Linked DNA regions of Homo sapiens: region 1 is linked to region 2. The links come from fine-mapping of genetic effects on gene expression. Tissue or cell type: whole blood. Region 2 holds a variant in brackets; the other region holds the start of a gene. All regions are shown on one strand. Distances are from middle to middle.

Region 1 (2,614 bases), 130 kb after region 2:
ATCATTCATTCAGCCAACAAATATTTACTCAACATCAGGCTCAATTTCTAACTTCCTAGAAAGATCTTTTTTCCCATCCCTCCCCTAATTCTTACCATTTTACCAACTGGTTCATCTCTCTTTTCAATAGCTATATTGTCCCCGCTTATAATGAGAATCTCATTTTGCCTTTAATAATCTGATTCACCTCAACGAATGTGAAAGATTGTTGAGGAAAGCTCAATACATGTTCAATTTGATGTTTATACCGAGTCCACCACCACACGTGAAATTTAATAGGGGTAAATAATCTCGACCACCTCTAAAGGGGTGGGTGATAAAAGCTTTCTGTGATCTCACCGGCTCAAGTGTCCTCTTTAATCTGAATTCATCTGGAGAATAACTGCCCTATGATGTTCTTATAAAATTACTTGTTTCCTGTGCTTAGAACTTGTCTCTGGGTAGAGTGTACGCGTCTCAAGGGCAAAGACTCAGTCTTGTTCGTTGACTTCACACACTGCCAGCAAATAATGTGAATCAATAGACCTTTAACGGATGAAGAAAAATTAGCAGTTTGGGAGAAGGTCCTTGAAGGTAGCAAAGCGAAAAGAAGAAGGGGGCGCTTGCGCATAAACAGCTGCTTCTGAGAACGAAAACTACGTAGCATTTCCGAGTCCCGGTGGCCGCTCAGGCTGCCCTTTAAAGAGACGTGTAGGAAGCCCACCCTGGGGCGGCCGTGGGCGGAGCCGCGACCTGAACGCCGGGAGACCTCACCAGGCGGAGGCGGTGTCTACCTCACCAGGCGGAGGCGGTGTCTGCCTCGCGCTGTCCTCTGACCGCCAGGGGGAGCCCTGCCGCGCGCTGCGCTCCGGGCCGCGCCGCCACGCTCTCTCGACCCGCGCGCCCGCCGCGCACCACCCGTCGCCACGCCCGCCGCAGGCCAAGGGCCAGTCACTTGCGGGCCGGCGTCCCGCAGCCCATTCGCGCCCCGCCCCTGCCCCGCCGCGGGATGAGTAACGGTTACGAAGCACTTTCTCGGCTACGATTTCTGCTTAGTCATTGTCTTCCAGGAAACAGCTCCCTCAGTTTGGAATCAGCTCTCCCGCTGCGGCCGCAGTAGCCGGAGCCGGAGCCGCAGCCACCGGTGCCTTCCTTTCCCGCCGCCGCCCAGCCGCCGTCCGGCCTCCCTCGGGCCCGAGCGCAGACCAGGCTCCAGCCGCGCGGCGCCGGCAGCCTCGCGCTCCCTCTCGGGTCTCTCTCGGGCCTCGGGCACCGCGTCCTGTGGGGCGGCCGCCTGCCTGCCCGCCCGCCCGCAGCCCCTTCGCTGCGCGGCCCCTGGGCGGCCGCTGCCATGGGCACCGACAGCCGCGCGGCCAAGGCGCTCCTGGCGCGGGCCCGCACCCTGCACCTGCAGACGGGGAACCTGCTGAACTGGGGCCGCCTGCGGAAGAAGTGCCCGTCCACGCACAGCGAGGAGGTGAGCGTGGCGACACTCGCCGCGGGGCTCCCGGGGCAGGCCTCGGGCGGGGCCGGGCGGTTCCGGCAAGGGAGAAGCGCCCGCGGGCGAGGGAGGGTGGCAGGGCCTCGCGCGCACCTGGGCTCCGCCCGCGGTCAGATGCTGAGGCCAGTGTCGACGCGACCTTGGGTCCAAACCCGCTGCCGAGGGCAACGCGTCTAAAAAACTTAGCCGGTGCAGCTGCGCACTGAGTGACACCTCTCTCGGTGCTTAAGGCTGGTAGCAAAACTCTCAAACATCCTGGGTCCCTCTTCCTGGCACGGAGGTCACAGAGGGCCAGGACGTCGCTCCGTCTCTCTCCACATCTCTCGCTTCCTTCCCCCACCCTGTCCAGGTAAAGGAATATTTTCGGAGATTATCCTTTGGTGCATTCAGATGAAGTAGTATTCATAGTACACCTAACTTTTAGAATGTTGACATTAGACTCTCTATTGCAGTGAGGCAAATGAGTAAGCACTCAATTTTGGCTTTGGAATACCCTAAATACCCTGACTTTAGTCATTACACATTTTATGCACTTATCTGTGCGTCTATGTATGCTTTATCAGTACACATTCTATGCATGTAACAATATCATTGTACATTCTATGCATGTAACAGAATATCACATGTGCCCCATAAATATGTACAAATATAATCTATCAATTCAAAAATTAAAGTTTTGTAAAAACTGGAAAATAAAAAGACTAGTCACTAGTTGGAGGTGACAGAGATTAATCTGGAATTACAAACTTGTTACCTATTTGTTGGCCATTTCTGAGCGGATAGTCATCCACTGCACATTGTGCATATTGGTGGTATGGGACAATTTTAGTATTTAAAAAATAACAAAATCTTTAGATTTAGGAGCTATATGACTTTGGAAAATTACTTTAAAGTTGGATAATAACACCTTCCTCATCAGGTTGTTGTGAGAATTAAGAGGTAATATATGAAAACGCTCACCATGCAGGCATCTATCTCCCTGTCATCTGGTTCCATCAGAAAGATAAATCTTAATTAAGAGAAAAACCTTCCTAAACTATGTGTGTTTAGAAAAACCTTCCTAAATCAGCTGTGTTCCTAAGTGGTTTCTGCTCTCTTCTATGAGATGTTGGTAACAGACCATGCAGCAGCACA
Region 2 (2,500 bases):
TACATGTATAGATAGATAAACACATATACTTCAAAATGATAAAGAATAGTAAAACTATGCATACAATTTTATAACCTGACTTTTTTTTCAAAAAAAAGGATTGCTTTTTTAAACATAAGATATCAGGAACATCTTTCATGTCATTACATATTCTTCTATAAAATAATATTTAATGTTTACAGATTATTCCATTGTATGCATGAACTATGTAAGCCATCCTCTTATTAGATATTTAAGCAGGGTCTGCTATTTTTGTATTGTATCATAAACACCACCACAGTGAGCATCTTGATTGCCAAATCAAGAATACTTGTCCTCAATTATTTCTGTAAGATCAGCTGCTGGAAGTGGAAGTGCTAAGCCACTGCTTTTCTCGTTGTCCCATCCTCCTAGCCTCACGGTGGCTGAGCACATGCTGTTCTATGCCCAGCTGAAAGGAAAGTCCCAGGAGGAGGCCCAGCTGGAGATGGAAGCCATGTTGGAGGACACAGGCCTCCACCACAAGCGGAATGAAGAGGCTCAGGACCTATCAGGTGCTCAGAGCTGGATGGAGACAGGGCCACAGATGGCAAATCCATGGCTCCCCAGTGCACCCAGGAGGCAGGGGAGGCTTGGAGCAGGAGAGCTTCTAAGGGTGGGAACACCTCTGTGAAGTTACACCAAAAATCTAAGAGCAGCCCCCAGATCATTTTCCCTGCAGAGCACTGTCTCACAGCAGCCTGGGTTTTATTTGTCCTGAGATTGATGTGCTTGAACAGTCTTCAAAGGGTCTGATCCGAGGAGGTGAGGGTTGCCCTTTCTGCATTTACAAAGCCTGAACAGTATTAGGGCTTTGAACGCTATAAACATCTAAGAGGCAGCACCAAACCACTGCTGGGTTAAGGTACCCCCACAATGCCACTTGCCCTGGGCCTTTCTCTTCCTCACCCTCCACAGCCCCTTAACTCTCCCGTCCTTCTTGTGCCTCCAGGTGGCATGCAGAGAAAGCTGTCGGTTGCCATTGCCTTTGTGGGAGATGCCAAGGTGGTGATTCTGGACGAACCCACCTCTGGGGTGGACCCTTACTCGAGACGCTCAATCTGGGATCTGCTCCTGAAGTATCGCTCAGGTAACAGCTGCTGCTCAGTCTCCTGGGCTGGGCTCTCACTGCAGCCCTAGCTGTGGTCCCCACTCTCTCACCTGCCATTTTGTAGCTGAGTACAGGAACCACAATGACTACACTCAGAAGGGGG[T/A]TTATCAGTGACTTGGTGAATCTAAGTTCCAGCTAAAGCCTCCTGAGGTTTTTACAAATATAAACAGAGAATCACTGATGATGCAACCTACTTCCCAAAATATTTTAGAAAATTCTCTTGACCTGCAGCCCTTCTGTCTGGAATAATGGATGCTACTCTAGGTGAATGTCTTCTCTGACCATGGGGACCCAGGTCACCTGCAAACATACCTAGAAGCTCCATAGCTGTCAGATGACCACTCAGGACCAGTGTGAGGGTGACCTGCTGGGCATTCAGTGCTCCAGAGGGTGGCCACAGATGGAAGTGGCTCCTCTGTCATGGCACCTCTCAGACAAGGGGCTCAGATCAGAAGAGACAGCAAGCAGAGCTGAGTGCCCATAGAGGTAACAGCACGGTTCAACCCCGTGGTCAAGCCAGAGCTTTCCCCCTTGCTCTACTCACACAGCGTTGCCCCGTGCCTTTCTCTGAGGGTTTGTCATCCTGAAATCCTCATTGCTATTTTCTTTCTTTCTTTTCTTTTTTTTTTTTTTTTTTTTTTGAGACAGAATCTCGCTCTGTCGCGCAGGCTGGAGTGCAGTGGCGCAATCTCCACTCACTGCAAGCTCCGCCTCCTGGGTTCGAGCCATTCTCCTGCCTCAGCCTCCTGAGTAGCTGGGACTACAGGTGCCCGCCACCACGCCTAGCTAATTGTTTTTGTATTTTTAGTAGAGACGGGGTTTCACCGTGTTAGCCAGGATGGTCTCGATCTCCCGACCTCAGGTGATCCTCCCGCCTTGTCCTCCCAAAGTGCTGGGATTACAGGCATGAGCCACCGTGCCCGGCCTGCTGTTTTCTGTTAATGACATCTCCAGTTAGTGAGAGTATGCACGTGTGTGTTCTTTATGAAGAGTATAAATCCAGAGCTTAATGATCCAGAAAATGTACATATGAAACTCCCTAGATGCTGACCATAATACATGAGCCCCTAATATAGAGATTTATTTGAATCAGATCCTATGCTGGATACAGAGACACTGTGTGTGGCAATGCTTTACAGTATGTAGGAAGCTATGAAATGTTAGTTATTATTGTCCTAATATGCTGGAATTTGCTGCTGAATTAGTTCCCTTGGGTTTTTTTTTTTAGTTAACTCCTGATTTTTGCAACTATATAGCCAGGAAATTGCTGTACACCCTTTACCAACAATGCCCAACCCAGGGCAGGCCTGGTGATTGCCCTGGCCCCTACCTTGCAGGCAGAACCATCATCATGTCCACTCACCACATGGA

The links. PIP is the estimated chance that this variant, and not a neighbour inherited with it, causes the effect.
Region 1: it holds the start of GCLM, and the variant in region 2 is fine-mapped to the expression of GCLM in whole blood (TOPMed, PIP above 0.99).

What each region holds. Positions count from the first base shown.
Region 1 is chr1:93,907,880-93,910,493 of GRCh38, reverse strand. It overlaps GCLM (glutamate-cysteine ligase modifier subunit), which reads left to right and starts at 1,064. Exons shown (of 7, transcript NM_002061.4): 1 at 1,064-1,456. The coding sequence starts at 1,331. It overlaps LOC124904221 (a long non-coding RNA gene), which reads right to left and starts at 902. Exons shown (of 2, transcript XR_007066230.1): 1 at 340-902. RefSeq lists an enhancer at 541-700 and silencers at 741-980, 1,191-1,550, 1,601-1,650.
Region 2 is chr1:94,041,369-94,043,868 of GRCh38, reverse strand. It overlaps ABCA4 (ATP binding cassette subfamily A member 4), which reads left to right. Exons shown (of 50, transcript NM_000350.3): 21 at 394-533; 22 at 971-1,108; 23 at 2,467-2,500. Among named protein-coding and RNA genes, the nearest start is that of ABCA4, 79 kb to the left of the region's middle. The variant T/A (reference allele first, on the strand shown) is at 1,233.